3 separate regions of the Homo sapiens genome follow, and regions 1 and 2 are each linked to region 3. The links come from fine-mapping of genetic effects on gene expression. A gene starts in region 3. Each other region holds a variant in brackets. All regions are shown on one strand. Distances are between the middles of the regions.

Region 1 (2,756 bases), 46 kb before region 3:
CTGGCCAACACGGTGAAACCCCGTCTCCACTAAAAATACAAAAATTAGCCCAGTGTGGTGGTGGGTGCCTGTAATCCCAGCTACTCGGGAGGCTGAGGCAGGAGAATCACTTGAACAATGGAGGCAGAGGTTGCAGTGAGCCGAGATGGCACCACTGCACTCCAGCCTGGGTGACAGAGTGAGACTCTGTCTCAAAACCAAACAAACAAAAAAGGCTGCGGTTATGGCTGGTGGAACAGGGGCTCAGTTCGTCAGCAGCTGTGAACTGGATGAGCTGTAATTGCTTTAATTTGGCTTTTCTCGAGGCCAGTGCTTATTTAGCTGCTAGAGAAAAAGAAAAAAAAAACCCTCATGGCAGTTAGAACAGAGTTTCTTCTGTAGGGCTGCCTGGCTTCACCCTGGCCTGGCATGGCCTCAGGTCCTGTTTATAATTTGGCATCTTATTGCCACGGAATGTCTATTCTTTCAGTCCTGCGAACTCTATTTTAACATTAACGCTGGTCGGTTATTGTGTGTCGCCTGTAAAAGAGAAGGGTATAATGAGGCATGATTGACCTCCCATCCCGCCATGGCTGGAAACTAAGTTTTGAAAGTTTTTCTGGGGTCTCCTGGGCCACAAGTGGGGCCGTTTAGTCAGTGGGAGGCATAGGATTTTATTTTTAGTTTACAGTAGCAAATGTGTTCCTTTGTTTGCTTTCAAGCTTGTTTAATTCATTTTTGGAAAAGTTAACATATTCAATCAGCACAAAAGAGTATACAGTAAAAAACTGGGCACAGTGGCACACGTCTGTAATCCCAGCTACTCAGGAGTTCAAGCCCAGAAGTTCAAGGCCAGCCTGGGCAACATAGTGAAACACTGTCTCAAAAGAAAAAAGTATACAGTAAAAAGCCCTGTCTTACAGAAAGATTATAGAGTAGCACAGTGAACATAGAGCATACAGACAACTTTCTAGACAGACAGCAAGAAACAAAACGTGTGGGGGCCCATCCTGCTCTCCTGCTTTCTGTGGAGTGACACATCAGTTGTCTTTGGGGATTCTTTTTTTTTTGAGACGGAGTCTCACTCTGTCTCCCAGGCTGGAATGCGATGGCGTGATCTCATCTCACTGCAACTTCCGCCTCCCGGATTCAAGCAATTCTCCTGCCTCAGACTCCCGAGTAGCTGGGATTACAGGCACCCACCACCATGCCCGGCTAACGTTTTTTGTATTTTGTTAGAGACAGGGTTTCACCATGTTGGTCGGGCTGGTCTTGAACTCCTGACCTCAGGTGATCCGCCCGCCTCGGCCTCCCGAAGTGCTGGGATTACAGGCGTGAGCCACCACGCCCAGCCTTGTCTTTGGGCATTGAAAG[G/C]GCCTTGATGTTTCAGGTCTCTCTGTGACAGTGAATCAAAGTCCCCCTTTTCTCCTTTTCCCTAACAAGGGACGGCTTGCAACATAAGATGATCAAAAAGACTGGCCCAGCAGGGTTTTCTAAGGTCTCTGTCTGGCTATCAATCAACAAGAGGATCCCAGAGTATGCAGCCCTCCCTAGACCCACCTGACTGGGGAACCCTTCTGCTGTGGCGCATCTCAGAGGGCCAGGGTTCCACGGAGCACAGTTTGGGAAAGGCTGCAAAGACAGCCACTAGATGTATCAGCAGGTGAACGAAGGACCCTGCCCACCCATAGTCTCTGGATGGTCCTGGACAAATTATGGTCCCTCTCCAGGGTCTTGATTGTGAAGGATACTATTAGTTTGAACACTTCTAACAGGCAGGTATAGATGGTGCAGTGGTTGAGAGAATGAACTCTGGACTCCAAAAGACCTGTGTTCCAAGCATGGTCTTGTCATTGACTCCCCGTGGCCTCAGGCAAGCCCCTTCGTATCTTGGTGCCTTAGCAGCCACCTCACAGTTGTGGGAATAACACAGCTGCACATCTAGTGCCTTGGAGCATTTCCTGGTGCATGGCAGGTCCTGGATTCAGGTTCAGACATCGTGGTCACCCCTACCCCACCTGGCCTCCCCCTTGGTTCCCCTGACCCTAGAGCATCTGGAAAATGGACAGAGGGTGATAGAGGCCCTGGGGGAGAACTACTAAGCAGCAGTGGTGGGTGGGCTCAGGTCAGACCCAGGCAGATGGGAGTCTGCCAAAAGGAGGGAGGCCTGAGTCCAGGAGCCATTCCCTGACCTCTTCCCTTAGGTCCCTGCGGATGTGATGGCCCAGCTATGGCTGTCCTGCTTCCTCCTTCCTGCCCTCGTGGTGTCTGGTAGGTGTCTCCCCTCCCCAGCCACGCAGCCCTAACCTAGAGACCCTTGGCAGGACCCTCCAGAAAGGAGGGGGATCCCTCATCAGCAAACACCAGCTCCTATGGGCCAGCCCTGTGCTTGGCTAAGCTGGGGAGGCCTGGGGAGGAATCCAGGCCTGGACGGGTGGCCTGGGTGGCCATAAGGACTAGTGTGTGCTCCCAGGGGAGCAGGTAGGGATCGGGTTTTGCAGGGGTGTCCCGATGTTCCAGCACACTGTGTCCCTACAGTGGCAGCCAACGTGGCCCCGAAGTTCCTAGCCAACATGACGTCAGTGATCCTGCCTGAGGACCTGCCTGTGGGTGAGTCCCGGTCCCTGTGTCTGCCCCATGTCAGGTCCTGACCCACAGGAAAGTCCTGGGGTGCCCTCTGGAGCCCCCACCATGCCTGCAACTCCATGGCTTATTGTGGGACAAAGAGGGACTGAAGGGAGCTCCTTTGATTCCAGAAGTTTGTTTTCTTCTCTTCA
Region 2 (2,756 bases), 60 kb before region 3:
TCCTGGGAGGTGTGGTCTCTGGCAGGGTTAATGATTGCTCAGTGGAGGTGGAGATGGTGCCAAAGTCTGCTGGCCACATAGCTGCAGGCCGCAGAGGGTGCCCACCTGTGTGCCAGCGCCTGTCCGGCGCCTGCCTGCCGCCTCCGTGGCGAAGGGGACACAGGTAGGGACTATCCAGCTCATCGGGGGTCTCTGGGCCAGAGAAATGTGGGGGTTGGGGGGATCCCTAGAGCCAAGGCAAGCTTGGGGGTCTTTAAAAGTCTCCCCTGAAGCTGGGCAGGGGAAGTCACACGCTAGATGGGGCAGAGCCGGGTCAGGTCCCAGCCTGCTGTGAGGCCTGTTTCTTTGGTAAACATGGGATAATAATACCTCCTTCCCTGGGGGCTGATGGCCCCCTTCCCATCCAAGTCCTCAAGGGATGATTCTTCAGAGGATGGAAGGGAGGCAGGCACCCCAGGGAAACGAGGTAACTGGCCTGACCCCTTCATAGGATGCTCAGGGGTTGAGGACGGGGAAGCTGACCTGGGCTCTTACCCCAGCTGCTCGGTTCACATCCCAGCTCCACCCTGACCTTGGTGGGCTACTTAACTCTTCTGGGCCTCCGTTTCCTCATTTATCAAATGGGGATGAGAAGAGTTCCAGAAAGGGCCTGAAAAGCCCTGAGGCAAAGGTGAGCATGTGGCCTATGACCGAGCCCAGTGCCACCTCAGCCAGTGCTAGGAAGTGTCAGGCAGGGACTGACCCAGGCTGGCCCCAGCTCTGCCCAGTCCGGGCCTTGCACATCTCTCTGCCCTGGTAGAGGAGGTGGTGACCCAGCTGAGAGTCGGGGCCATGCTGCGTCACTCAGGCAGGCCTGTGCTGGGTTGGGCACCAGGCACAAGGCAGGGTCCCAGTGAGCACCGAGGTCCGGCAGATGGAAACAAGTCATGGCCCGTGTGTAGACCCCTTGATTTTTATCCTCACTCTGCTTCTCAGCAGGGGAAACTGAGGCCTGGAGAGGGGAGAGGGCTTGCCTGGGGTTGCACAACAAATATGTGAAATGCTGCCATCTGAACCCAGGGCTGTTTGAGTCTGTATGTGTCTGCTGGGCCAGGTGGCCTGGGCCATAGGCACTGGGAGGGCCCGTGGCGGGGAGCTGCGTGCTCAGGTCCCACATCCTTGCTCCGGGCACCCAGGCTCGGCTGGAGTCCGCTCTGTGGGTGCAGGCACGGCCTCCTGGATCAACGGAGCCCAGACCAAGGCTTGCCCAGGGACCCCTGGATTTGGAGGCAGCCTGGGTCTAACCTGCTGCCCCTGGCTCACCCATCTCTGGGCATCTATGAGCCTCGGTTTCCTTGGAATAATAGGATAGGATAATTCCTGCTTGGGAACAGCTGTGAGAAGTAAATGAAAAAGCAGAAGTGAAAGTGCATGGCGAGCTGGCCGTGTAGCGGTGGCGGTGCTGGGGGAG[C/T]TCTGTAGCATCGTGGCTGAGTGCACCCCGGGGGCTCCCCACACTGAAGGAGGACCCACCTCCCCACCCTGACCCTCCTGGAGGTCCTGGGCAGTCCGGGTATCCTCACTCCCAGTGGTTCCAAATTCTAGAAAATCTTGGCACCGTGGACTGCTCTGAGATGCGGCTGAAGCCTCCTCTCAGCCAAGGCTGAAGAGCTGGCACCTCCTGGGCCAGGTGGGACCAGTGAGGATTCCTGGAGACTACACATCTCATGGCGTGGGGGCCAGAGTCTCCCTGATTCTTCTCTGTGTCCTTTTTGGTCCTTCCCTAAGCACTTTCTTTTTGAGACGGATTCTCACTCTGTTGCCCAGGCTGGAGTGCAAGGCGCTATCTCGGCTCACTGCAACCTGTGCCTCCCTGGTTCAAACGATTCTCCTGCCTCAGCCTCCTGACTAGCTAGGATTACAGGTGCACGCCACCACGTCTGGCTAATTTTTTTTTGTGAGATGGAGTCTTGCTTGTCGCCCAGGCTCCAGTGCAGTGGTGCGATCTCAGTTCACCACAACCTCTGCCTCCTTGGTTCAAGTGATTCTCCTGCCTCAGCCTCCCGAATAGCTGGGATTACAGGTGTGCGCCACCATGCCTGGCTAATTTTTGTATTTTTAGTAGAGACAGGGTTTCACCATGTTGGTCAGGCTGGTCCAGGCATTTTTTGAGAGCAGGGAAACAACAGTAGTGGCCGGAGGGCTTGAGAACAAGGAAGCAGTAATTTCTGGAATATAGATAGTCCCCATTTTAAATTACTTTATTTTATTTTTATTTTTTGAGACAAGGTCTTGCTCTGTCGCCCAGGCTGGCGTGCAGTGGCGCGATCTCGGCTCACTGCAGCCTCAACCTTCTGGGCTCAAGTGATCCTCCCACTCTAGCCTCCCAAAGTGCTGGACTGTGTTTGCTCCTTTAAAAAATGAGAACTATTGGTATTGGCCTGGACTGCCACCACACCTAGCCAAGAGTTCTCTTTTTTTTTTTTTTTTTTGAGACAGAGTCTCGCTCTGTCACCCAAGCTGGAGTGCAGTAGCGGCATCTCGGCTCACTGCAAGCTCCGCTTCCCGGGTTCACGCCATTCTCCTGCCTCAGCCTTCCAAGTAGCTGGGACTACAGGCGCCCGCCACCACGCCTGGCTAATATTTTTTTTTTTTTTGGGGAACTTTTAGTAGAGACGGCGTTTCACCATGTTAGCCAGGATGGTCTCGATCTCCTGACCCCGACCCCGTAATCGGCCCGCCAAAGTGCTGGGATTACAGGCGTGAGTCACCGCGCCCGG
Region 3 (2,739 bases):
CTTCGTCAGGCATCTGAGTGTGTCTGAGAATCTCAGTCTGCTGCCCCTCGTCCCCTTCTCTCGTAGTGCCCTCAGAGCAGCGAAGTCTCCTGCTCGGGGGTGTGGGGGGAGAAGGAATCTAAAGGTGTTAGCCAGACCTGCTTCCAGAAACGGCCCTCAGACCATGCATACATACATACATAGGAGGGCAAGAATGGACGTTCATGGACGTGCAAACGTGGGCCAGTGTGGGTGGGAGTGGGCAGCACGCTAAGAGACAGAGTGTGTGTGTAAGAGGGAGTGTGTGCACAAGGGTGGCAGTCTACTCCAGGGTATCTGGGTACGCAAGGGACCCCATGAGCAGGGGTGAGCAGGCCAGGGCAGGGTGGCCCCGAGTGTGTTGTGATCAGGGAGTATTGTTGAGTTGATGTCCATGCTGTGATCCGCGATGGCTGGTTTGAGTGCGTAGCTGTGCCTGGGTGTGTACGCAAGGCTCCCACCCAGTACCCTGGGTGACAGGTGGCCGTGTGTATGAGTCTAATGGAATGACCAACAGCCATTGTGTGTGTGCGGTAGACCTGTGGCCTCACTCGAGGAAATGAGGCGCCCGTGCGTGAACGCGGTGTTGTGTGATCGCGCCCCGGAGTGTGTGCCACACTGGTTGTGTGACGGCGAGTGTGCTCAGTAGTGCGAGTGGAGCCAGTGGAGCGTTGAGCTCGCTCCGGGGAAGATGAATCAACGCGGGAGGACGCCCTCCCCCCAGTGGCGGGAAGCACCCCCTCCCGCGCGGCCATGCCGAACAAAGCCAGCGGGCGGCGGCAAGGCCGGGCGCGGGGCCGACCCCACAGCCAGGTCAGCCTGGCCCGCCGGGCCCCTCTGATGTTCGGCCCAGGGCTGCGGGACCCGCCCCCGCCCCGCCCCGCCCCGCCCCGCCCCGGCGAGGAGCCTGGAAACAGACACCCACCGCCCCCAGCCGCGCGCACACACCCGGGCTCATGCCGCGCGAGGTGTCCGAGCCCCGCCGCCGGGGGGCTTCGAGGACCCTGGACAGCGGCTCCGGGGCGGCAGCGAGCGGATGAAGGGGCTGCCGCCGCCCGCCCGGAAAGACAGCGGGTGTGGGCGCGGCGCTTACCAGGCAGTGCCGCTGCTCCGGCTCCTGGGCGAGATGCGCTCCGGCTCCCGCCGCCGCCGCCGCCGCCGCCCGAGCGGCCTCGGCTGCCTCCGGCCGGGCTGGCGGGAGGACCCGCAGACTCGGCGCCGCCGTCCCCAGCGCCGGCTCCGCGCTCCCGCCCCGCGCCCCGCCCCGGGCATGCGCAGTAGCCGCCCGGCCGCCTCGGAACCGCGAGGGGGCGGTGACCGCGGGGAAACCGCGGCCGGAGGGAGCGAGGGAGGGGCGCCCCTCGCTGGCCAACCCTAACTGCGGCCGCTGGGCTCCCGGGTTCCGCGCCGTCCTCGAGCGGGTTCCCACTTCACAGACAGGGAGACTGAGGGCCGGAGAGGCTGCCCCTTTGCTGCGAGCTTGCTGAGGGCGGGGCGCGCCGTCTAGCAGATCTTAGACCAGCCCCTCGAAAGCCCTCGCCTGGCTTGACCAAGGAGGGAACTGGGGCTCAGAGGGGGCAGTCGCCGGCCTGAGGACTCGAGGCGCCTGGATGGGGACCCAGGTCGGCGCGATCTCCCGGCTCCGCCAGCGAGGAAATTTCCCGCCTCCGCCCCCCCCACCCCCGGCCGCACTTCCGGCCTCCTCTTCCCCGCCCCCGGCCCTTTGTCTCGCCGCTGCCCACGCTCCAGCGAGTGGCGGGGACGCCGGAGGTAGTGGTGCGGGAGAGATGCCTTCCAGTCCCTGGCTGCGGCCTCCCCGGGGGCCCGCCCGCCCTCCCCCCTCCCCCTGGATACCCTCGAGCAAATCATTTCACCTCTCTGCACTTCAGTTTCTCGATCTGTAAAACGGGACTAACATTATGCACCTCACGGTGGTCTTGGAAGGGCAAAGTAGGTGTTCAGGGGTTTCCAGTGGTATCTGAATCACCAAGGACACAGAGACTCGCTGCCCACCCCCTCCACATTTCCCTGCAGAGAAGGAGTTCCCTTCCCCTTGACTTCCCAGAGGAGAAAAAATAATTCCGTAATTGCTCTAGATGTGACAAAACCCTCTCGCACCGGTACTATGAAGCCACCACCATCTATTAATCAATGGTAACAACCATTGGCAATGATGCTTATGTAGGGCCAGACACGGCGCTAAGATTCTGTTTACAGGTTTTATCTAATTTCAATTTCCAATCGCTTAGGAGCAAGTTAATATTAATGTATTATATCTCCATTTTTCAGATAAGAAAAGAGAAGCAGATAAGTAACTTGTTTGTGGTCACACATCTAGTTAGTAGTGGAGCTGGGATTACAAACCCATGCAGTCTAACTTTGAAACCTCACTTCTTATTCTTACATTTTACTCCCCTCTCTTACTTGGTGAACCGTAAGTCACCGTGATCCTTTAAAATATATATATATATATATATATATATATATATATATATATATATATATATATATATATATTTAAAATTCTAGGTGATAAATGAAGAAAATCCGTGGGACTGGCGTCTCCAGGCAGCACGCCAGGCAAGGAGAAAACCTCAGCGTGTCGGACCGGTTTCAGAACCACGGACAGCACCACACCAGGGCTGCTTCCTCACATTTCCGGTCCTGAAAATTGCTCATTCACTGCCCACAAGGCCATTTCGCTTCAGAGCTTACAAACCC

What was found. PIP is the estimated chance that this variant, and not a neighbour inherited with it, causes the effect.
Region 1: its variant is fine-mapped to the expression of GPRIN1 in whole blood (INTERVAL, PIP above 0.99).
Region 2: its variant is fine-mapped to the expression of GPRIN1 in whole blood (TOPMed, PIP 0.92).

The regions. Positions count from the first base shown.
Region 1 is chr5:176,563,155-176,565,910 of GRCh38, forward strand. It overlaps CDHR2 (cadherin related family member 2), which reads left to right. Exons shown (of 32, transcript NM_017675.6): 2 at 2,184-2,250; 3 at 2,518-2,589. The coding sequence starts at 2,199. Among named protein-coding and RNA genes, the nearest start is that of CDHR2, 15 kb to the left of the region's middle. The variant G/C (reference allele first, on the strand shown) is at 1,354.
Region 2 is chr5:176,549,252-176,552,007 of GRCh38, forward strand. It overlaps CDHR2 (cadherin related family member 2), which reads left to right and starts at 91. Exons shown (of 32, transcript NM_017675.6): 1 at 91-163. RefSeq lists an enhancer at 363-1,296. The variant C/T (reference allele first, on the strand shown) is at 1,451.
Region 3 is chr5:176,608,888-176,611,626 of GRCh38, forward strand. GPRIN1 (G protein regulated inducer of neurite outgrowth 1) reads right to left here and starts at 1,269. Exons shown (of 2, transcript NM_052899.3): 1 at 1,112-1,269. RefSeq lists silencers at 850-909, 970-1,599, 2,501-2,739.